7 linked regions of the Homo sapiens genome follow. The protein of the gene in region 1 purifies or fractionates together with the protein of each later gene. This does not show direct contact. Each region holds a gene or a part of one and is shown in the gene's direction. Other genes may lie near its edges.

The links.
Region 2: the proteins of TMEM184A (region 1) and PDP2 purify together in Homo sapiens (affinity purification with mass spectrometry; 2 studies listed by BioGRID and IntAct, with this or other methods). This does not show direct contact.
Region 3: the proteins of TMEM184A (region 1) and SLC25A15 purify together in Homo sapiens (affinity purification with mass spectrometry; one large-scale study listed by BioGRID and IntAct). This does not show direct contact.
Region 4: the proteins of TMEM184A (region 1) and ASS1 purify together in Homo sapiens (affinity purification with mass spectrometry; 2 studies listed by BioGRID and IntAct, with this or other methods). This does not show direct contact.
Region 5: the proteins of TMEM184A (region 1) and RRM1 purify together in Homo sapiens (affinity purification with mass spectrometry; 2 studies listed by BioGRID and IntAct, with this or other methods). This does not show direct contact.
Region 6: the proteins of TMEM184A (region 1) and VKORC1L1 purify together in Homo sapiens (co-immunoprecipitation; 2 studies listed by BioGRID and IntAct, with this or other methods). This does not show direct contact.
Region 7: the proteins of TMEM184A (region 1) and GPAT4 purify together in Homo sapiens (affinity purification with mass spectrometry; one large-scale study listed by BioGRID and IntAct). This does not show direct contact.

The regions. Positions count from the first base shown.
Region 1 is NC_000007.14:1,541,735-1,543,970, reverse strand, and holds the end of TMEM184A (transmembrane protein 184A), read left to right. Parts: 3' UTR 1-1,736; downstream 1,737-2,236. UniProt on the Homo sapiens protein: Acts as a heparin receptor in vascular cells. May be involved in vesicle transport in exocrine cells and Sertoli cells.
Region 2 is NC_000016.10:66,887,015-66,890,514, forward strand, and holds part of PDP2 ([Pyruvate dehydrogenase [acetyl-transferring]]-phosphatase 2, mitochondrial precursor), read left to right. Parts: 3' UTR 1-3,500. UniProt on the Homo sapiens protein: Mitochondrial enzyme that catalyzes the dephosphorylation and concomitant reactivation of the alpha subunit of the E1 component of the pyruvate dehydrogenase complex (PDC), thereby stimulating the conversion of pyruvate into acetyl-CoA.
Region 3 is NC_000013.11:40,788,196-40,792,410, forward strand, and holds the start of SLC25A15 (mitochondrial ornithine transporter 1), read left to right. Parts: upstream 1-1,415; 5' UTR 1,416-1,468; intron 1,469-4,215.
Region 4 is NC_000009.12:130,451,461-130,454,960, forward strand, and holds part of ASS1 (argininosuccinate synthase), read left to right. Parts: intron 1-763; 5' UTR 764-768; coding exon 769-873; intron 874-2,844; coding exon 2,845-2,913; intron 2,914-3,500. UniProt on the Homo sapiens protein: One of the enzymes of the urea cycle, the metabolic pathway transforming neurotoxic amonia produced by protein catabolism into inocuous urea in the liver of ureotelic animals.
Region 5 is NC_000011.10:4,101,299-4,104,798, forward strand, and holds part of RRM1 (ribonucleoside-diphosphate reductase large subunit), read left to right. Parts: intron 1-694; coding exon 695-783; intron 784-3,500. UniProt on the Homo sapiens protein: Provides the precursors necessary for DNA synthesis. Catalyzes the biosynthesis of deoxyribonucleotides from the corresponding ribonucleotides.
Region 6 is NC_000007.14:65,949,574-65,953,073, forward strand, and holds part of VKORC1L1 (vitamin K epoxide reductase complex subunit 1-like protein 1), read left to right. Parts: intron 1-3,500. UniProt on the Homo sapiens protein: Involved in vitamin K metabolism. Can reduce inactive vitamin K 2,3-epoxide to active vitamin K, and may contribute to vitamin K-mediated protection against oxidative stress.
Region 7 is NC_000008.11:41,581,200-41,584,699, forward strand, and holds part of GPAT4 (glycerol-3-phosphate acyltransferase 4 isoform 1 precursor), read left to right. Parts: intron 1-3,500. UniProt on the Homo sapiens protein: Converts glycerol-3-phosphate to 1-acyl-sn-glycerol-3-phosphate (lysophosphatidic acid or LPA) by incorporating an acyl moiety at the sn-1 position of the glycerol backbone. Active against both saturated and unsaturated long-chain fatty acyl-CoAs.

The DNA.
Region 1 (2,236 bases):
TGGCCCCAGGCCACACAGATGCTGCGAGTTGGGATTATGATCGGGTGCAGTGGCTCACACCTGTAATTCCAGCACTTGGGGAGGCCAAGGCGAGTGGATTGCTTGAGCCCAGGAGTCTGAGACCAGCCTGGGCAACATGGTGAAACCCCATCTCTACAAAAAAAAAATACAAAAATTAGCTGGGCGTGGTGGTGCGTGCCGGCGGTCCCAGCTACTCAGGAGGCTGAGATGGGAGGATTGCTTGAGCCTGGGAGGTCGAGGCTGCAGTGAACTGTGATCACGCCCCTGCACTCCAGCTTGGGTGACAAAGCAAGATACTGTCTCAAAAAACTCGAGTTGGGATTTCACCCTGCGTGGTCCAGCACTGAACAGCGTTCACACCTCGGTCAGCTCAGCCCCAAAAACGGGGAAGGCCGGGCGGGGTGGGGACGGCATGCGGGCAGGCCCGTGGCTTTTCGGAGGAGTCCACGGGCTTCCGGCCACTGTGCAGGGGCGCTTTGCTCTCTGCTCCCAGACAGACCCTGTCTTGCTCACAGCTTCCTGCAGGCTCCTCTGAGAGTCCAGCAAAGCTGGGCGAGATGTCTCCCAGGGAAGGGGAACACTGACAGCCGTGCTGCTCTCTGCTCCTTCCACTGGAAGGGAGAGGCTGCATGGACAGGGGGCTCCGGGTGGGGCAGATGGGGACACTCAGGACTGCGGCCTGACCCTCAGAGACTGAGCCCAGGACGTGGTCACCTGACCAGCACCTCCCCCGTGGCTGTCCCAGCCTCACGGTCACGGCCCAGCAGTCCGGGAAAGCCACTTACACGTAGTGCCCGGATCCTGACCCCGGTGAGGGACAGGCAGGGTCCCCTGGGATTGGGGGGGGGGTGTGGTTCTTGGCCCAAGAAAGCCCCAGCTGAAAGCACCAGCTACGCAACGAAAGGGTCTGAAACCAGAAAATTCTTTATTGCAAAGGTACAAAAGCAGTCACAGCAGCAGGACGCACGGCAATAAATTAGGTGGTGGCCGCAGGGACGGGGCAGGGCGGCGGCGGCCAGACACGGGCCCACATGTGATCTGTTTTCAATAATTTATATCATGATAAAAAGCAGCACAAAAAATAAATAATGAAATGGAACTGCCAAGTAGCACAGAAGCCAGGGTGAGGCGGTGTGGCGGCGTGGCGGCATAGGGGGCCGGGGTCCCCACGCCCTGGAAACGCAAAGACCTGGATCTCTTTGGGAAGCCGGAGGCACGGAGACAGAAAACAAACCCACGTGACAAAGAGTCCCTCGTCTTTTTCTTAAATAAAAAAATCCATATATTAAATCATGACAATGAAATTTCAACAATCTGAAAAGAAAAGCAGAACACACCGTGCTTCCCCGGCCCAGCTCTGGGCGGTGACAGCGGCTCCGTCCACCCTGGGGACCAGGGAGTCCCTTCTCCAGCAAAGCACTGCAGGCCAAGGGCAGGTAGAAGCCCACGGCCCACAAGACGTGGACACCAAGAACCCCAAGACGGGACAGAACCGGCCACCCGCTGCGGCCTGTCCTGCGGGGCCCAGCTGCCTGGTACAGTCCGTGGGGAGATGAAGGGGGACGGCGGGCAGCCCGGGCCTCCGCTTTGCTCCCAACTCCCACCTGTGCCCGTGCCCCCGGCTCTGCTCTGATAGATTTACAGTATCAAACTGGAAAAGAAAGATTGTTACGAAAAATCTGTAGATAAACTGTGAATATAATTTTATATCTCTATATATTTTCTGTTTCTCTCTTTAAATATCCCCCTGGTCCTTATGACATCCAATATGGATTACCTACCACGGCCACGGGGGCAACGGCTGTTTGGGAACACGCAGGCCTTTGCTCTGTAGGGACCCAGTGGTCCTGGCGGGCCTGCAGCTTCCCACTCAACTTCTAACAGTAGACACAGAACCAAGTCGCAGCCCCGGGGCTGTCTGTCCTCTGCCCTCCCAGCGTGGCTGGCACCCGCCTGGGCTCTGTAGCTGGTGGGGGCTGTTACTGGGTGGGCAGGGGCAGCCGAGAAGGAGCCAGGGCCCCAGGCACCACCTTGCAGGTCTTATGTGGCGGCCCCCGGCCGGCGGCTCACATTCCGCCAGCTCCCCCAGGCAGGGGCTCCGCAACCCCCGCGGCTCTCGCTGCAGAGACCCCAGTCACAGGAGGGACCCTCAAGGCGGCTCTCCAGGAAAAGGAAGCCCAAGGTGGAGTGCCAAGCCCACTGGTGCCTCAGTGCT
Region 2 (3,500 bases), on another chromosome or scaffold:
TAAGGACAACAGTTTCTAACCAAGTTTCTCTGAATCCTTTCCTGAGAGGTGGTGGGCAGGAGGGAGGAGTGAGACTTATCAGATGGGACGCTTGCCCCAAGACTGTGGGATAAACCACCATTGCTAGTCCTCAGGAATTAGACCATATTTAGTATAGGAGTTGGGGCAAAAATAAAAGTGTAATTTGTAATGGTTTCTGTGGGCTGTAGACTCTTTGTATTTACTTGGAAATTCAGTTATGTGGATCCATTTTGGAGATGAATTTCATCTCATGAGTTGCTGTGGCATTTAAACAACAGGAAATGTGTCCCTAAATGGAAACAAATATAATCCCACAAAACCAACAATTTTATTTGCCTCTACTACGTCAGGCAGAATTCTTCAATTAAGTTGAACTACATTTGTTGATCCCTTTTCTCATCTTACCCCTTTATGCCACCTACTGAAAAGAAAAACAAATAGCTAGGTTTGGTTTCCTGTTTTTTGTCTATGTCCCAGCTGACATTCAGTCAAATGTTGGGATACTTCTAATTTGGTGGTGTTTCTTTGTACATTTTTCAGTGCAACTGTTTAGTCATGTGTTTTCATCTAAGAAATTATCTTTTGAATATTTAAGCCTTGATCCTTTTATTCTGAAACCATTAATATTCCTTCTTGGCTGGGTGCAGTAGTTTACGCCTGTAATCCCAGCACTGTGGGAGGCCGAGGCGGATGGATCACCTGAGGTCGGGAATTCGAGACCAGCCTGACCAACATGGAGAAACTCCATCTCTACTAAAAATACAAAATTAGCCAGGTGTGGTGGTGCATGCCTGTAATCCCAGCTACTCGGGAGGCTGAGGCAGGAAAATCACTTGAACCCGGGAGGCGGAGGTTGCGGTGAGCCAAGATCGCACCATTGCACTCCAGCCTGGGCAACAAGAGTGAAACTCTGTCTCAAAAAAAAAAAAAAAAAATCCATCTTATCTCTTAGTCCGTCCTTCCTTCCTTCCTTCCTTCCTTCCTTCCTTCCTTCCTTCCTTCCTTCCTTCCTTCCTTCCTTCCTCTCTCTCTCTTTCTTTCTTTCTTTCCTTCTTGACAGGGTCTCCCTGTAGCCAGGCTGGAGTGCAATGGCATGATCTTGGCTCACTGCAACCTCTGCAGCCCAGGCTCAAACGATCCTCCTGCCTCAGCCTCCCGAGTAGCTGGGACTATGCACCACCATGCCTGGCTAATTTTTTTAATTTTTTGTAGAGACAGGGTTTTGCCATGTTGCCCAGGCTGGTCTCAAACTCCTAGACTCAAGCAATCTGCCCACCTCGGCCTCCCAAGGTGCTGGGATGATAGGCATGAGCCACCGCACCCAGCCTATCTCCTAGATCTTGAATCAAAAATAAAATGTAAATCACTTCCATTCTGCTAGCATGAGGGTTTGTTGCTAAAATTGAGGATTCTATCTGACGTTTACTTTTTGTTGTTTTTTGAGACAAGGTCTTGCTTTGTCGCCCATGCTGGAGTGCAGTGGCATCATTATAACTCACTGTCAAACTCCTGGACTCCAATGTTCCCTCCCCTTTTAGCCTCCCAAGTAGCTGGGTCTACAGGCATGAACCATCAGGCCCAGATAATTAAAAAAACTTTTTTTGGTGAAAACATGATCTTGCTATGTTGCTCAGGCTGGTTGTCTGGCATTTTCTTTGTCCTTTATTCTTTATACTAGCTAAACCCTGGAGTATCCTTGAAGCCTTTACTGGCATACAGAGTACCTGAATCTTACTTTGGAGCCTAGCATGGGTCATAAATATATCTGATTCATTAACCTGTGAGACAGCTGAGAGAACACAGACTCCTTACCTGTATCTCCAGGCATATCTGGTTTTTCTCTGCCTAATAGATTTTCCTGCTTTCTAGTTAGTAATATTGAGAAAGAAGAAAGGCTTATTTATCATTTGCTTTTTTTCCACTGTGAATCATCTGTTCTTTCCATGAACATTCTGGGGAGCACCTCCTGATTAAACTCCTGTCTCCCTGACCACTATCCTGCTGTCATTGGACTTCTTGAAGCACATGGGCTACTGCCCCAGGACACTGGGATTTGAGAGGAGTTTAGTGGTAATTGTCAGGTCTTTCAAAGCATTTATTATTCCTTTTATACGGAGATTTCAGTATTGAGACTTAAAATGAACTGAAAAATGAGATTGAACATTTAATATTTTGGATGTAACTTTTGAAGAAAGTATGCTTTGGTGCTTAAAATTGTATATGATTTTAGGTAAGAAACTTTGATAATATTGGCATAATTTAGATTTATTTTCTTTCTTTTTTTTGAGACAGTCTCACTCAGTCGCCCAGGCTGAAGTGCAGTGACACAGTCTCAGCTCACTGCAACGTCTGCCTCCCAGATTGAAGTGACTCTCGTGCCTCTGCCACAGAGTAGCTGGGATTACAGGCATGCACCACCACACACCGCTAATTTTTTGTATTTTTAGTAGAGACAGAGTTTCACCATGTTGGCCAGGCTGCGAACTCCTGAGCTCAAGTGATCCTCCCACCTCAGCTTCCCAAAGTGCTAGCATTACAGGCATGAGCCACCACACCTCACCAGATTTTTAAAAAATATATAACTGCATCTCTCTTGATTCTGGGGCTTGGTAAAAATGGATAGATAAGATAGTATTCTAAATTCAAATTCGTGGCTAGGCACAGTGGCCCACACCTGTAATCCCAGCACTTTGGGATTCCAAGACAGAAGACTCACTTGAGTACAGTATGAGACCAGCCTGGGCAACATAGATCTTGCCTCTACAAAAAAAAAAAAAAATAGCCAGGTGTGGCACATGCCTGTAGTCTCAGCTGCTTGGAAGGCTGAAATGAGAGGATCTCTTGAGCCCAGGAGGTCTAGGCCAGAGTGAGCTGTGATCGTGCCATTGCACTCCAGACTGAGTGACAGAGTGAGACTGTGTCTAAAAAAAAAGTTTGAATTAAAAAAAAAAAAAAAAAAGTCGGCTGTGCACGGTGGCTCATGCCTGTGATCCCAGCACTTTCGGAGGCCAAAGTGGGTGGATTACCTGAGGTCAGGAGTTTGAGACCAGCCTGACCAACATGGTAAAACTCCATCTCTACTAAAAATACAAAAATTAGCCTGGAATAGTGGCGCATGCCTGTAATCCCAGCTACTTGTGAGGCTGAGGCAGGAGAATCCCTTGAACCCAGAAGGCAGAGGTTGCAGTGAGCTGAGATTGTGCCATTGCACTCCAGCCTGGGCAACATGAGCGAAACTCCATCTCAAAAAAACAAAAACAAAAAACAAACTCAAATTAGCATGATAGATCAGGCTACTTAGATTCAGCTTTCTGAGATGTTATTTGTTAACATTAAGGCTAATTTATTATAATGAAAATGTAAACTTTGAGGTATGTTAATATATAAACATCTTTTTCCTTTGGCCTAAAAGGTCTTTAGTATTCAGCACACTGGGTAAAGTTCAGTTTAGACACAATCAAATTGGCATCTTTTAAACA
Region 3 (4,215 bases), on another chromosome or scaffold:
CACACGTGTAATCCCAGCACTTTGAGAGGCCGAGGCAGGCAGATCACCTGAGGTCAGGAGTTCGAGACCAGCCCGGCCAAGGTGGTGAAACCCTGTCTCTACTAAAAAATACAAAATTAGCTGGGTGTGGTGGCGCATGCCTGTAATCCCAGCTACTTGGGAAGCTAAGGCAGGAGAATCGCTTGAACCCAGGAGGGGGAGGTTGCAGTGAGCTGAGATTGCACCATTGCACTCCAGCTCGGGTGACAGAGTGAGACTCTGTCTCAAAAAAAAAAAGAAAAAAAAAGAAAAAAATAATAATCCAACAGCACATCTAAACAAGGCTTAAAGTTGTAAAATAAAATTACACTGTGTGGAGGGTGTGTGTGTGTGTGTGTGTGTGTGTGTGTGGGTGAGAGAGAGAGAGAGAGAGAGATGAGGTCTCTGTCATCCAGGCTGGAGTGCAACAGTGCCATCATAGCTCACTGCGGCCTCCAATTCCTGGCCTCAAGCGATCCTCCCGCCTTGGCCTCCCAAATAGCTAAGAATAGAGGCATGTGTCACCACACCTTTTTTTTTTTGTCGTTGTTTGTTTGTTTTTATGAAACGGAGTCTCGCTGTGTAGCCCAGGCTGGAGTGTAGTGATGCAATCTTGGCTCACTGCAACCTTCACCTCCCAGATTCAAGCGATTCTCCTGCCTCAGCCTCCCTAGTAGCTGGGGTTACAGACACGCACCACCACGCTGGATAAATTTTTGTAATTTTAGTACACGGGGTTTCACCATGTTGGCCAGGCTGGTCTTGGACTCCTGACCTCAGGTGATCCGCCTACCTCGGCCTCCCACAGTGCTGGGATTACAGGCGTGAGCCACCATGCCCGGCTAATTCCTGTATTTTCATACTTAGTTGTATTTCCTATTAGGGCCTTGGATCCCGAGTATAATTTTGTACTCAAATATAATTTATAAATAAGGCCTTAGCCTCCCAACAAGGTCAAAGTAGCTAAAAAGTAAGTCCTCCCAACCACTGACATTACCAGCCCCCAGCCCCCAGTCCCAGCCCAGCGGGCTAACAAGGGTCCGGCCTCAGAGAGGGTCTCGGGGATCCCAGAGGTGGGAAAGTCTCCGGAGGCGCAGGCCCCGCTCTCCACCTTCACCAGGGTCGGCGGCAGCACCACGCCGGGTCGCGGGCTGGCTGTGCGCGCCGCGGCCCCACGCCCACTTCCGCTTCCCGTGCTGGGGGCGGTGGCAGGGCCGGTGGGCGGTGGCGGCTCCCGGTCTCGGCTCGGGCACGGCCCTGGGCAGGCCGCCCGCCAGCCGCAGGGGCGCTCCTGAGCTTCGCGGGGCCGCAGTCCGGGATGCCTGCGCGAAGGGAGGGGCGAAGGGCCGGCCGTTGCCGACGTGGGTGTTAAGTGGCCGCCCCAGCCGGCGACCCGGAGCCGAGAGCGGGCGGCGGAGCCTGAGCTGGACGCGGCCACGCCGGCGCGGCGGTGAGCGCAGCCCGGTCTGGCGCCTGCAGCTGCGGGGAGCGCGCCAGGCAGAGGGAGCGGGGAGCGGGGCGCGGGGCGGGCCTCGGTGTGCGGGCGGCGTGACCTTCCCGAGCGGCGGGGGAAGCGGCCAGCGTCGCAGCGCACGTGCCGCGGGACTCGGAGAATCTCGGGGTTGTCGGCCTCCTTCCTGCAGTGCCCACCTGGTGGGAACTTTTGTCCTTGTTTGCCCCCAAGTCCTGTCATTTGGCTGCGGGGCTCCGCGCCTCAGGGGCGCCAGTGCTGGGCAGCATGGAGCCGCTTGTGAATGGAGACTTGCTGGCTGCCCAGGAGTGGGCGGCTGGGCAGGGGCGGTGAACGTTTAGGGTCCGGCCAAGAAAGTTGGAAGTCGTCTCCCTGACCTGTTCCTTGCGAGGCCCGGGAGGAGACGCGCCTGGCCGGTCCTTGGCGGCGAAACTGATTTGCATCTCCACGCTTTACCTAAAGCCCGGGCTCTGGGGACTGGATGGCGAGCTGGCCTGCGGCTCCTTTAGCCAGAAGCTGGGATCTTCCCGCAGCAGTTCGTGTTCCCTGGTGGAAAATGCAGCCTCATCTACTGACTCTCCCTTCCAAAAAAAAGTTATTTTCCCCAAGGGTCGAGAAAAGTGGGTGGTCGGCACTGTTGTTCCTCAGTTGCACCCTGGTGTAATTTGAGAGAGGGGTCAAAGGCGCTGAAAAGATTCTTTTTTCTATTCCAAGTGCTACAGCAAGCTCATAAATCAATTTTAATTCATGCTGAACAGTCTTGCCTCCTCCAAGCCCTGTGTCTTCTCCAAGCCAGAGCTACACATAATGTGAATTAGCTGCCCACTCCTTCTGAGTGAATCTGTTAGTACCCATCATCGTTTTCTATCCTAATAATTCTAATGGCTATTTGTAGAATTTATTTGTTTGTTTATTTTTTTGAGACGGAGTTTCGCTCTTGTTGCCCAGGCTGGAGTGCAATGGGGCGATCTCGGCTCACCGCAACCTCCGCCTCCTGGGTTCAAGCTATTCTCCTCCCTCAGCCTCCCGAGTAGCTGGGATTACAAGCATGGCCCACCACGCCAGGCTAATTTTGTATTTTTAATAGAGACGGGGGTTTCTCATGTTGGTCAGGCTGGTCTCGAACTCCCGACCTCAGGTGATCCGCCCGCCTTGGCCTCCCAAAGTGCTGGGATTACAGGCGTGAGCCACTGTGCCTGGCCTATTTGTAGAATTTAATGTGTTTAAGTTTGGCTCACCTAACAGGGTTTAATTCTTAGGGACAGATAGAATGTAATGTGATGTGACTTTCCTTCAAAATTAAGAAGGAAGTGTCTGTGCCAAAAGAAATAAGCGCATTGAGGTTTATCTAGGAGGCCACATTGTACTTGCCTCTGTCTGTCTGCTCAGTTGCCCCCGTTTTTTTCTTTCCCAAAAATATAGGGTTGGGTGTTTTGTGTTGCCTTTGGCCAGGTTGAAATACTCAGATTAACGGTTGGTTTGTAGGCACAGGCCTGAAAAGACAGGACTTTGAACTGAATCCTCTGTCACTGACAGTTGTGTGGCCTTGGAGAAGACCTTGTCTTGCTCCAGGCTTTAGTTTGCCTTCTGGGAAAGGATTAGGACCCTGATAAACTTTTTATTTATTTATTTATTTATTTATTTATTTATTTTATTTTTTATTTTCTATTATTATTATTATTTTTTTTTTTGAGACAGAGTCTCACTTTGTTGCCCAGGCTGGAGTCCAGTGGCACAATCTCGGCTCACTGCAACCTCCACCTCCCGGGTTCAAGTGAATCTTCTGCCTCAGCCTCCTGAGTAGCTGGGACTACAGGTGTGCATCACCACGCTGGGGTCATTTTTGTATTTTAAGTAGAGACAGGGTTACACCATATTCGTCAAGCTGGTCTCAAACTCCTGACCTCGTGATCCTCCCACCTCAGCCGGCCCAAAGTGCTGGGATTACAGGCGTGAGCCACCGCGCCTGGCCAGGACCCTGATAAACTTTTTTAGGAAGATACCAGATGGCCACCACCTTTTCAGCCTAGTGAATGGTCCTGTCTCTCCAGACCTATCAACAGCATATAAATCAGTGTCTTGCACTTCTAACTTAGTTGCTTTATTAAGTAATGTGCCGTTGTTGCCACTGGTTTTAAATTTTTTGTGAATAAAGGAGGATTATTGAAGTCTCGTCGTTGGCAAGATGCTTCAAGAGGTTTAAACAACTTCTCCACGGCCAATGTTTCCTGTTGACGTTCAGGGTGACATTGGTGTTAGGAGCGTGCTTGGTGTTCATCTCTGATCCAGCACGATGGGTCACACGGCTCCTCAGTGTGATGAGGAATAAGTTGTTCCTTATTATTTGCAAATAAGTTACTAACACCGTTTGAAAACTGTACAGGATTGGTCGTTGAGTTGGATATTTTAGTCAACATTTATTAAGCCCATGCCTCAACAGTAGTTGACTTTTGTCTAAAGAGAGAGAAAGAAATTCTAGTTTTCCCAAATGCCCAAGGCTCCAACCAAAACATACTGAATCCAGATTTCCAGAGGAAAGTCCTGGCAATTTGGATATTTAATAAGTGCTCCAGGTTATCAAGTGGATTTGGACACAACGGCCCAGGTGTTGTATCTCAAAGTGTGAGTCTGTGGACTGGCACTGTCCGCCTCACTTGGGAACTCATCAGAACAGGCAGAACCTCTGGTCCTGTCCAAGGCTACTGAATCAGAGGCCGCATTTTATT
Region 4 (3,500 bases), on another chromosome or scaffold:
ATTGGCAGAGTTGAATTCAGAGGCGCTCACATTTGGAGACACGATGTCTAAAATTCCAGCCAGTGAAGGTTCCATGGGGTTGCAGGTAGGAGAGGGACTGGGGCTGGGCCCCTGCCCCACAGCATCCTTCTCCACCTGCAGGTGGGCGGCGGCACTGCGTGCTGGGGAAGCACAGATTCTTGTGCCCTCTGTGACCTTGAGCCTGCCACTGACCTCTCTGAGCCCTGCTGGCTGCCTCCCCAATAGGAATGACAACTCCTACTTCATGAGGTTGTAGTGGGGGCTCAGGGGCACAGGGAGATCCCGCTGAGGCTCCCAGGGCCCTGCCTGGTGCTTGGCAAGGAGCAGTTCTGATGGGGGATGTGTCAGCTGCCAGAGGCTCAGAGCCAAGGCCCCTCCCACATCTCCTGCCTGCGTGCATTCCTCACATCCTGGCCTTGGGCCAAACTGCTCAGCCTCAGCCGCCTTCCCTCGATGCTGGAGGATCAGGTCCAAGAGATGCCTCTCCCCGACCAGCCTAGGACTGCAGTCAGCATTCCCAGGCCCCAGTGTGGTCTGTGGGGCTGTGTGCAGAGTGTGCGAGGTCAGGGTTCCCGGGGGTGGCAGGCACTGAAGGTGAACATCCTGTTCCCGACCTTCAGTGGCAGCTTGCCCAGGAGACAAGGCTGTCCAAGGCCAAGGTCGGGGCTGGGCTGTCTGCAGGGGCTGGCGGGGGGCACTGGCTGTCTCAGGGTCACTCAGGTTGTTCCTCGACTCCCGCCAGACGCTATGTCCAGCAAAGGCTCCGTGGTTCTGGCCTACAGTGGCGGCCTGGACACCTCGTGCATCCTCGTGTGGCTGAAGGAACAAGGCTATGACGTCATTGCCTATCTGGTGAGGGAGCGACCTGGGTGTCTGTCTTCCTGCGTGTCCTGCAACCTGTCCTGTCTGCCCCCTGCCAGCCTCTGTCTGGGTTGTCAGCCTGTCTGCTCACCGTCACTCATTCAAGCCTGGCCTCTTCTCTCGAAGCCTGTCTTGAACTGGAACTAGGAAAATAGCTTCTCGTTGTACTGCCTCACTTTCTCCATCTGCAAATTGGCCATCCTTGAGATGCCTTCCAGAGCCAGGTGATGGAGGCGCGGGGAGGGCACAGAAGTGAACTTGGCAGTGCTGCTGGCTTAGCCTGCTTGCAGAGAGGCATGGGCTGGGACCTGCTGCCAGCCCTGGGAAGGCACACAGTCTTCCCATCTCCAGAGTATGCTGTCAGCCTGCAGTAATTCAGCAAAGATTGTGGAATCCTGAGCTGGAAGGACCCTGGGGGATCACCTGGTTCTGGGATGGGAAATAGGTCACAGGTGATGGGTTATGTGTGAAGCCACTTCCTCATCCAGGGCCCATAGGAGTCATCCCTCTCAAACTAGCTCCTCTTCGACTGAACCTGGCCACAGCTCTGAGTCCTTCTCTGTGTGGCTGTGCTGTTCAGGACTCTTAGGTGCAAATTTTAGAAACTGAACTCAAACCAACTTACGCAAAAAGGAAAGGGAAAAGACAATTCTTGGCTCACACAACTGAGAACTCCAGGGGTAGGATGGCTTCAGGCAGGGCTGGATCCAGGTGCTTCTAAGATCTATCTCCAACTCTACTTGGCTTCATTCTTGGCCTCTCCACAGGGCAGGCAAGGCTCATGGTCACCCTCATAGCCCACCTTTCCCAAAAAGGAGGGCTTACCCCCAGTAGGGCCCATGGGGACCCACCACGCATTAGTCCCTATGGCTGCATCATGGGGTGCGAGGCTTGGGCCATGAGCCTACTCCTTCAGTGGGCGGGATTTCTTCCTCTCCATCCCTGTGGAATGGGGTCCACCCAGGAAAGAAGGTTCTGTTTCCAGAGGAAGTGAGCCTGGGTCTCTGGACAGACAAAACTTAGCTCTTGCCAAAAGTGGCTTGTTTGCCGGCATATTGGCATGTCTAACTGCGCCCAATGCCCTTGTCATTCAGGTTGGGGAAAGTGAGGCCCAGGGGAAGAAATACTTTGCTCACAGTCACCTGGTGGGTGAGAGCACAGCTTTGAGGGGCTGCAAAGAGCCCAGGGTGTATCCATCTCACTGTAGGTAGCACAGCGGGGCAATCAGAGCTGGAGCTGGGCGTATAGACCCCTGGGCTACCACCTGGGGGATTTAAAAGCTGAATGTGATTCAGATAAGCACCTGCAGCTGGGCTTTGGCAAGATTCCAGGGTCTGGTGAGCCGAATGAAGGGAGTGAGGGCTGAGGCCAGGATCTGGGCAGCAGGCCAGAGTCCAGGCAGCAGGAAACATGGCAGTGTCTAGACAGGGGCTGTCAGACCCCGAGGTCAGGGCACTGGCCACAGGGACGGAGCTGGAAGTTCCTGAGCACGGGCTTCTCTGCCTCCCGCCTCTCAGCTGCCTCAGGATGGCCAAGGCATGGCCTTTGACTAGGGAGGAGAGCTGGAGGCTAGGAAGGCCCTGACAAGCTAATCTTTGCACTGGCTGAGAAAGAGTTTTCTGGAAAAGACAGATGAGTTTCAGGAGAACCCTAGACCTTCCAGCAATGACAGCAGATGGTTGTCTCCCAGCAGCCTGTGTGGCCAGGGCCAGGCTCAGCCAATGCTCCAACCCATGGAAGCCACCAGCCATCACCACGCTACAATCCAGCTCCCAATCTCACCTCCTGGAAGAATCTCACCTCTCCAGGCCTTGGGCTTTGTCCTTTTTCCTTCTTACTGTGACTTGGCCATGGAATGGAAGCTGTCTCTGTAGCAGGGGGTGGGAGGCTGCTGCATGCGGATGGTGTGAACTCAGGGCTCCCCCCAGGGGCTGACGGAGCCTCTCCGCTTCTGCTTCTCAGGCCAACATTGGCCAGAAGGAAGACTTCGAGGAAGCCAGGAAGAAGGCACTGAAGCTTGGGGCCAAAAAGGTACCAGGCGGGAGGCAGGGATTTGGGCTGGGAGTGGGGCGGTGATGTGGAGGGCAGTGGTGGATGCTCCTGCCCCAGGGATCCCATCCCTTCCAGTGTGTCTTCTTGCTTCTAAGAGTATGAGATCATCCTGCTCTCAGGTGTGTGAACCCTCTTGTTTTTCTGCCTCCCCCACGCCCTCTTCCACCCACCCACCTTCCCATCCAGGTGGAGTGTCTCTTCCCCACCCACATACCTTCCCTTCTCTTTTATCTCTCTGTCCATCTATGCACCCACTCACCCTCTTTTATCTCTGTTTATCTACTCGTCCACATATCCATCCATCATTCATCCCTCCATTAGCTATCCATCGATCCATCCATCCATCCATTCAGCCATCCATCCATCCATCACCCACCCATCCATTCACCCATCATCCATCCATCCATCCATCCATCACCCACCCATCCATTCACCCATCATCCATCCATCCATCCATTCATCCATTCATCCATCATCCATCCACCCATCCATCCATCACCCATCCACTCATCCACCCATCCATTATCCATCCATCCATTCATCCATCCATCCATCATCCATCTATC
Region 5 (3,500 bases), on another chromosome or scaffold:
GTATAGGATTCTGTGGATTTTTTTTTTTTTTTAGTTGGAGTTTCATTCTTGTTGTCCAGGCTGGAATGCAATGGCGTGATCTCAGCTCACTGCAACCTCCGCCTCCTGGGTTCAAACAATTCTCCTGCCTTAGCCTCCCGAATAGCTGGGATTATAGGCCCCTGCCACCATGCCCAGCTAATTTTTTGTATTTTTAGTAGAGACGGGGTTTCACCATATTGATCAGGCTGATCTCGAACTCCTGACCTCCAGTGATCCACACCCCCCCCCGCTCCCTTGGCCTCCCAAAGTGCTGGGATTACAGGTGTGAGCCACTAGGCCTGGCCTGTGGATTGTTATAACAATTTTGACTTTTATTCTGGAGATCATAAGCCACTATTAGGAGTTTTGAAGGAGGTAATGATATGATTCTGAGTTTAACTTTTAAAGGGTAATTTTGGCTGCCATGTGGGATGGGGGAAAAATTTAGGAAATTATCCGTAAACGTCTGTCTGTATAGAATTCATACTCTTTGAAGGTGACATCAGAGAAGACAATCTCTTCATGAATCTTTTGAGGGGGCCTCAATCTTTTCTGTGAAATAGCACTTCATGTTGGTCAATTTACATGTTAATTACATTTGATTCTTTGACATTGTAGTCTTAATAATTGCTAACATGAATTTAATAATTGCTAACATGATTTGATTCTTTAGATGGCCGCCAAGAACGAGTCATGTTTGACAAAATTACATCTCGAATCCAGAAGCTTTGTTATGGACTCAATATGGATTTTGTTGATCCTGTAAGTAAATATGGTTTTTATCTTGGGTTCCTTCTTTCATGTGTTTCTTTCCATTTGTCTCTTATCCCTGGACCTTCATTCACCTGATATACTTTGGTATTCTGGCTATGCCCTTCGATATAAAATTTGAATTCATTGCTTAAAACATTTTTTTTTCCTTAATTTTGGTTCTGTCCTGTGAGTTCTCACTTTTCAGAGAACTATGAATGTGAGTAAAGAGGAAAATTTGATATTAACATTTAATATCAGATATTTCCTTGAGTAAATTGTTTTATTCATTAGTGGAAAAGCCTAGGCCAGGCGCCGTGGCTCACGCCTGTAATCCCAGCACTTTGGGAGGCTGAGGTGGGCAGATCACCTGAGGTCAGGAGTTCAAGACCAGCCTGGCCAACATGGTGAAACCCCGTCTCTACTAAAAATGCAAAAATTAGCCGGGCCTGGTGGTGGGCGCCTGTAATCCCAGCTACTTGGGAGGCAGGAGAATCACTTGAACCTGGGAGGCAGAGGTTGCAGTGAGCCGAGATCGTGCCACTGCACTCCAGCCTGGGCGACAGAGCGAGACTCCCTCTCAAAAAAAAAAAAAAAAGGGAAGCCTAGAGTAAAGCTTGTTTTGGAATTGTGGTTATTTAGGTAGGGACTGGTTTAAAATTTGTTTTTTGTTATTTATGTAAAAAGATTTAAGTAATATAAAGTAGATTTCATGGACAATATTTAAGTCAAGAACAAACTATTCATAAACCAGTTGCTCTGCTTTTCTCCTTATCCTTTATAACTTCTGTATTCTAGACTCTCATCATCAGTTATCTGGACTGTTTTCTGTGGTCTCTGCAGTGTCCTGGACTTCCTCTAATCTTACCCTCTTCAAACTCGTCTTCCACCTGACTTCTAAAATGATCTTCCTTAAATGAGAATCTCTAAGAACTCTTTTTTTCAAATCCACCCATATTTCCGTCTCCTTATTTAGGTATCTTATCCGCACTGCTAAGGTATCTTAGGTATCTTATCCGTAAAACCTGTGCTCATCTCATAGCTTTAATCATATAGTATGGAAATTAATTATGGATCTTTGTCCTCCCCTAGAATTGAGGATGGGCTGTGTATCTTATTCTTGTGATATCCTCAGTGCTTGACATGTATCTAATTAGCCACTTGACCAAAGTAAGTTTGGTCAAGAGAAAATGATTTTATGTATCTTGAAAATATGTTTATTGTAAATTCTCTTTTATATTGAGGACTTAGGCAATAATTAGAATAGTAGAATGTTAGAGTTGGAATGAACTTAAGAGTCCATCCCATTTCATCTTTGGTTTATAGATAAGAAAGTTCCAAAGAGAGAGGGGAGTGACTTAAGTTAGTGGGAGTGTAGGGAGAAGCACCTAGGTCTCTTGACTCCTACATGTTCTATTGCCTCATGCAGTAGTACATTTTAGAGCGCAAGAATGTTGCAGCATCCTCAAACTTCCTAGGGTAGATTCTGTTGAAAAACTGTCGGTGCACATCTGTAATCCCAGCACTTTGGGAGACTGAGGTAGGCAGATTGCTTGGGCTCAGGAGTTTGAGACCAGCCTGGGCAACATGGTGAAACTGCCCAGGTGCAGTGGCTCAATCTTGGCCCACTGCAGCCTCCACCCCTGGGGATCAAATGATTCTTGTGCCTCAGCCTCCCTCAGCTGGGATTACAGGCATGTGCCACCACGCTATTTTTTTTTTTTTTTTTTTGTATTTTTAGTAGAGACAGGGTTTTGCTATGTTGGCCAGGCTCGTCTTGAACTCCTGACCTCAAGTTATCTGTCCGCCTTGGCCTCCCAAAGTGCTGGGATTACAGGTGTGAGCCACACTGTGCCTGCCCTCAACCCTGTTTCTACAAAAAAAAAAAAAAAAAAAAAATTGGTTGGGTGTGGTGGCGCATACCAGTAGTCCCAGCTACTTGGTGGTGGGAGGATCGCTTGAGCCCTGGAGGTTGAGGTTGCTGTGAGCTGAGATTGTGCCACTGTACTCCAGCACAGGCCACAGAATGAGACCCTGTCTCAAAAAGAAAAAAAGAAAAACTGTGTGCTGTTAGATCTGGCACAGTTAGCACACAGATGGTATTTTATTCTGAGTTCTAATTGTTTGCCTTATTGCTCTAGAAACTATTTAGAAGACTTCACTGCTCTTATACTGAACACACCTTATCTGCTGGATCTGGGAAGAAAGTGATCAGGAGCAACTTGGGCTTAGCTATATTATAATTAGAATAGATTGCAGACTGTTAAAATAGTTACACACGTATGTGTCTTTTTTTGAGGGGAGTATGCATTGTTCAGCTGGGAAACACATTTATTTTCTGTTGGATTAAGCGGTTTCTTAAAGATTCAATAAATAAACCACTCACAACTTAGAATTTGTTTTTCTTAAAAATGTATGCTAATACCCTGTGCATTACCTGTCTTAAAAACTGGAACTTATAATGTGGCCTTGAAAACAGTGAAATGCAGTGAGGTTTAATGGGATTGGGGCCAGAAGACTTGTATAATAATATAACCTTGGGCAAGTCTCAGTAACCTGAGCCTCAGGTTCTTCATGTAAAATAGGTATAGTAATAATCATCTCACAAAGTGATTGTGAAATGTCAGAGATTATCAAAGTTGATAATTACTTATCAACTTTGGTTGAGAATCATTTGAACCTCGGGGGCGGAGGTTGCACTTTGTAATTTGTGAAGTGCTAAAGAAAGT
Region 6 (3,500 bases), about 64 Mb from region 1:
GCAGATTACTTGAGCCCAGGAGCAACATGGTGAGACTCTGTCTCTGTAGAAAATACAAAAATTAGCCAGGTGTGGTGGCACACACCTGTAGTCCCAGCTACTTGAAAGGCTGAGGTGAGAGAATCACTTGAGTCCAAGAGATGGAGGTTGCAGGGAGCCGAGATCACACCACTGCACTCCAGCCTGGGGGTCAGAGCAAGACGCTGTCTCAAAAACTAATAATTTAATGTGAACTGTGTTTCAACATAGTGTCGTTTATCCTAAGTGTTATTGTTAACATCTAGGTTTCACTCCTTTTACTTCCAAATAATGCTGCAGTGATCAACTTTGTTTAAAGACCTCCTGCTCCTTCCTTCCTTTGAATTATCTCCACAAAATAAATTTCCAAGCATAGTATCAAAAAACACAGATATTTTCAATTTTAATCAGTGTTACCAATTTGCTTTTCCCTCAGTTCTTTGGTTTCCCTGAAGCTCCAGCGGTCTTTATTTTTAAGACATGCTTTGTAAAATTTCTTTTTTTTTTAATTGTAACGATAATCTTCACCTGGAAAAATTGCTAATAGTTACACATTAGTACCTATTACTTTAATTTTTACTCTTTTTAATTTCCTTTTATTGCCCATTTAGCATTTAGTTATTGGATCCCGATACTAGTACATTTTTATATGTGTTACAAACATTTTATGCATTCTTTATCCTTTTTTGTTAGTGTTATGAATTTGTATTGTATTAAGTTTTTATACTTTTAGAGTTAAATCCATCTGTTGATGCCTTTGCATTTTATTTTTCTTCTTTTTTGTAGATCTTGTTGCATACCAATGCTTTTGTATTTTAATTGTTAATATTCCATTACCTGTCAGCTCTTCTGATTTGGTTCATTAAAAATACATGTAACTCTTCTATCTGAAATTGATTTGTTATGAGGCAAATTATAAATCTAAATCATCCTCAGTAGTTCTGTCGAGTTTGCCCAGTTCCATATCTATGTATTTATCTTGCAGAAGTAGAAAGATGTGTGCACAAGGATATTCATAGCAGTACAGTGTAAAATAGCAAAAAAAAAATGGAGGTAGGTTACAAATAGATAATGGTTGAATAAATTAGAAAATACTATGAAATACTATGTAGCCATTAAAGGAAAAAGGAGATCTATGTTTATATCCTAGAAAGATAAAGACACTATTTAGTGAAAAAAGCAAATTTTGGTATAATAGGTATAGGATAAACGTGTTTGTATACATGCATGTAAATGCATAGAAAAGGGTCGGGTGGTTGGGGAGGAGGGAGAAATTTCACTAGGTATTCTGCATGTTTCCATTTTGCTGGATTTCTAGAGAAGAATATGAAGTATAAGCCCAGATGCAAGATGTTTTCCTTTAAAGGCAAAGAACCTAAGAACAGCCTTTGACTAGATTAACTCTTGAAGATAGAGGTGTGACAGCCAAATTTTTGTTTTACCATTAATTTAATGCCATGGTATATACATATTTTAAATCATATTTATCACATGTGTTTTTTCATTCGCATTTTTTGACTCGCATTTAGATGCTTCACGTGCCTTTTAATGTTGGTGTCTTCATGGGAGGCACATTTGAACTAACCTAGCAATTTCCAGAGCACAGCATCTGTACTCCCTTCTAACCTGTTTGAGACACAGCATTTTTAATTTAATTTTTTCATAGGTAATCCATTCACGTGGTTCAAAAGTTTTTAAAAAGGACCGGGCACAGTGGCTCATGCCAATAATTCCAGCATTTTGGGAGGCCAAGATGGGTGGATCACGAGGTCAGGAGTTCAAGACCAGCCTGGCCAACATGGTGAAACCCCATCTCTACTAAAAATACAAAAATTAGCCAGGTGTGGTGCCGCACACCTGTAATCCCAGCTACTTGGGAGGCTGAGGCAGGAGAATTGTTTGAACCTGGGAGACAGAGGTTGCAGTGAGCTAATGTCGCACCATTGCACTCCAGCCTCGGTGACAGAGCGAGACTCCTTCAGGAAAAAAAAAATATATATATATATACATATATAAAATGTTACACAAAGAAAAATCTATCCCACCCCTTCCCTTTATGCCTGGTTTCCAGTGCTCCTCAGCCCCGACTGGTAGCTTGTTATTGTCTCTTTATGCATATACGAGAAAGTACAAATACACAATCTTAATTTTCCTCCTTTTTAAAATATAAAAGGCAGATGCTATACCCACTGTTCTGCAGCTTGCATTTTCTTTTTTTGCCTGATGAATATATCATGGTGATTTTTCCATATCAGTATATTAAATGTCTTCATTCTTTTCTACAGCTGCAGAATAATCCATTGCATAATTGTACCATCATTTATTTAGAGTTACAGCACATTTTAAATTCCACTGGGAATTTGACCCTGAGCCAAACGTACCTAGCTGCATTACAGTAGCATTTAATGGATATCTGGTATTTATACACTATTCTAAGTGCTTTAATCCTGCATTATCTCAGCTCATTTAATTGCCCAGCAGTCTTAAGAAGTAGGCATGATTGTTATCCCAATTTTACAGTTGAGAAAAGAAAGGCATAGAGGAAGAAATAAGTTGCCCGTATCATTCTGAAGTTAACTTTCTTAGGTAAAATTGTGACCACATTAATTTCGAAATGTTAGTTGTTTAGCATAGGTGAAGTCAGCAAACTTTTTCAGTAAAGGGCCTGGCAGAAAATAGGCTTTGCCAGTTGCCGCAGCCACTCAACTCTTCTAGTATGAAAGCAGTCACAGACATTACGTAATGAATGACATTACATAAATGAATGAGCATGGCTGGGTGCCAATAAAACTTTATTTACAAAAGCAGGTAGCTGGCCAGATTTGCTAGTCCCTGCAACAAGTAATTCAGCAGCACCTTAGTCTTGAAGTGCCCTATGAAAGCATCTAGGCCCGTGGCTGTGCGGCAGCCGGCCCACAGGCGTCTTCTTGTTGCATTTTTTTTTTTGCCAACAGGGCCCAGGATTTCAGCTCTTTAACTGACTTCTTTATACCTGCTCCCACCTGTTATTTTGTTCCTGTTTCTGTTATCCTTATCCATGAGTCATTGGGTAGGAGGGTAGTTTAACATGCTCTGCCTTCTCTGTCCTTGAAAATAAATGCACATATTCTCTATACTGTTGCCTATAAGAAATTAAAAACAATACATGTGAAGATAGAGTCCAGAATTCAGGTGCCTTTTTTTTTCCTTTTTTTTTTTTTTTTTTTTTTTTGAGACAGAGTTAAGACTCTGTCGCCCAGGCTGGAGTCCACTGGTGCAATCTTATCTCACTGCAACCTCCGCCTCCTGGGTTCAAGTAATTCTCGTGCCTCAGCCTCCCTTGTAGCTGGGGTTGCAAGCGTGCAATACCATGCCCAGCTAATTTTTTTTTTCTCTTGTACTTTTTAGTAGAGAGGGGCTTTCACCATGTTGGCCAGGCTGGTCTCAAATTCCTGACCTCAAATGATCTGCCTGCCTTAGCCTCCCAAAGTCCTAGCATTACA
Region 7 (3,500 bases), on another chromosome or scaffold:
TTAGAGTTAGAAGGAGTCTTCCAAGTGCTTAGAGTTTCCCCTGAGTCCTTTAATGTACTTTTTCACCTTTAAAACACATGCAGACACGTACACATGCCACACAAACACAGAGTCTCATCTAGGGCTCTCTTCATTTTGCCTTGTACAATCTTAGTATGTTTGGATCCCACCTCCAGTTAATTTGTAAACCGAAGATCTGCAATAATAGAAAAATGCTTTGTAAAACAGGAGCGTAATACATTTGCACTTGACTTTTATTTATTTATTTTATAGAGATGGTCTTGATCTGTGGCTCAGGCTGGAGTGCAGTGGCATGATCAAGGCTCACTGCACCCTCAGCCTCCCTGGCTCAAACGGTCCTCCCGCCTCAGCCTCCCAAAGGGTCGGAATTACAGACATGAGCCACCATGCCAGGCCTTTGTTGACTTTTTTTTTTTTTTTTTTTTTGAGACAGAGTCTTGCTCTGTCGCCCAGGCTGGAGTGCAGTGGCGCAATCTCGGCTCACTGCAAGCTCCGCCTCCCGGGTTCACACCATTCTCCTGCCTTAGCCTCCTCAGTAGCTGGGATTACAGGCGCCTGCCACCACGCCCGGCTAATTTTTTTTTTGTATTTTTTAGTAGAGACAGGGTTTCACCGTGTTAGCCAGGATGGTCTCGATCTCCTGACCTCGTGATCCCCCCGCCTCGGCCTCCCAAAGTGCTGGGATTACAGGCGTGAGCCATCGCACCCGGCCGACTTGTTTGAATTAAAAAAAAAAAATGATCAGGAAGCTTAAATCAAGGGAAGTTCAATGATTTTTTTTTTTTTTTTTTTTTTTTTTTTTTTTGGAGACTGAGTCTTCCTCTGTCGCCCAGGCCTGAGTGCGGTGGCGAGATCTCGGCTCTCTGCAACCCTCCACCTCCTGAGCTCAAATGATTTCCCTATCTCCCAAGTAGCTGGGATTACAGGCATGCGCCACCACGCCCAGTTAATTTTTGTATTTTTAGTAGAGATGGGATTTCACCATGTTGGCCAGGCTGGTCTCGAACTCCTGACCTCAGGTGATCCACCCACCTCAGCCTCCCAAAGTGCTGGGATTACAGGCGTGAGACACTGCACGTGGCCGAAGCTGAATGATGTATTCAGGGACACATAGACTAGACAGTAAGAGTTGCACCTAGAACCTAAAGGCAGTCCTGGTTCCAGATCTAAGCCCTTTCTGCTGTACCATTTTCTTCACCTTGGAGAAATAGGGTGGGAAAGTATACACACACACACACACACACACACACACACACATCTTTCTTTCTTTCTTTGCCAGTTGAAGATACATTATTTTGAGTCTCCTTTAAAAATTTTTGATCAGTGCTGTCCCATAGAAATATTATATATGCTATATACACAATTTTAAATTTTATAATAATGCTTTTTTAAAAAGCACAAAGAAATAGATAAGGTTGATTTAATCATTCCACAAGGGGAGGGAGAGAGAGAGAGTGTGTGTGTGTGTGTGTGTGGGTGTATCTCAAAACATCACATTGTGCTCCATACATATGTAAAATTATGTATCAATTTTTAAGAAATTGACAAACAGTAATTTTACGTATTTATAGTGTACAGTAATATTTGCCCACATGGATAGAATGTGTAATGATAAAATCAGAGTATTTAGGATATCCAGCACCTGAAACATACATCATTTCTTTGTGTTGGGAACATTTCAAATCTACTTAACATTTCAAATTAAAATATACAAGAAATTGGCCTGACGTGGTGGCTCATGCCTGTAACCCTAGCACTTTGGGAGGCCAAAGTGGGTAGATCACTTGAGGTCAGGAGTTTGAAATCAGCCTGGCCAACATGATGAAACCCCTTCTCCACTAAAAATACAAAAAAAACTAGCCGGCTGTGGTGGCCTGTGCCTGTAATCCCAGGTATGAGGGAGGCTGAGGCACGAGAATTGCTTGAACCTGGAGGCAAAGGATGCAGTGAGCAGAGATCGCACCACTGCACTCCAGCCTGGGCCACAAAATGAGACTGTCTCAAAAAAAAAATAATATATATATATGTACAAGAAATTGGTAACTATAGTCATCCTACTTTGCTATTGAATACTGGAACTCATTCGTTCCATTTAAGTTTTTTTTTTCTATCCATTAACCAAGCTCTCAACGTCCACCCTTCCCAGCTGCTGGTATCTATTATATTCTACTGTCTATGAGATCATTTTTAGCTCCTATATATTGACTTTGATTTGAAAGTCAATTTAAATTTTTTTAAAAAAATTGTATAAAGTAGAAACAGGTGAAAATAATTTTAACAATATATTTTATTTAACCTAGTTTATCCAGAATATTACTTTGAAACATAATCAATATAAAAATTATTAATGGGATATTTTACATGCATTTTTTTCATGCTAAGTCATTGAACTCCAGTGTGCATTTTACATTCACAACACATTTTAAGTGCTCCAAGGTCACACGTGGTTAGTGGCTGCTCTGTTGGACTGCAGAGAATCACTGTCAGTGGAACATAAAGATGAAGGAATGTTTTATTTTGCTTAGTAATGTTCAGGTCTGAGGTTAGAGTTTGTGGTTGTGGTCATTGGTTTTTTCTTTCATGTTTTAGTGATTTTCTTTGCACAATTAGAAGTATTTTGAATTTGCAGAGAGATGAACAAAAAAGTCTGCTGTCACGAATTTGTGCGCTTGTGATGAAAAGGTTTCATTTTTTAAGACAGGGTCTTGCTCTGTTGCTCAGGCTGGAGTGCAGTGGCACTGTCATGGCTCACTGCAGCCTCAGCCGACTGGACTCAGGTGATCCTCCCACCTAAGCCTCCCAAATAGCTGGGATTACAGGAATGCACCACCACGCCCAGCTAATTTGTGTATTTTTAGTAGAAATGGGGTCTCTCCTTGTTGTCCAGGCTGTTGTTGAACTCCTGTCCTCAAGTGATCCGCCCACCTCGGCCTCCCAGAATGCTGAAATTACAGGTGTGAGCCACTGCGCCTGGCCAGTGATGTGTGTAAATTTAAAAGACTGTATTGGTGAAGATGTGGAACAAGTGAGACTTCCCTACGCTGCTAGTGGGAATACAAAATGGTACAACCCATTTTGGAATTTGTCATTCCACTCCTAGGTATTTACCCAAGAGAAATGAAGTATATGTCCATACAAAGACTTGTAGATAGCAGTTTTATTTGTAATAGCCTCAAACTGGAACAACCTTAGTGTCCATCAGTAGGGGAATGGATGAAGAAACGGGTATATCCATATACTGGAATACAGCTCAGCAATCAAGAGGAATAAACTGTTGACACATGCAGCAACATGGATGGTTCTCAGTATAATTATGCTGAGTGAAGTAAATTGGATAAAAAGATTTTTTGAACAAGAAAAAGGCCAGGAAGTTGCTTCTAATTACATATGCAGTACTCAGATTTCAAGAACTGGTATTGAAATTGAGCCATCAGAGCAGTGTTCAGGTCGAATAATGAATTGTCTTGGGTCTTAAAGCT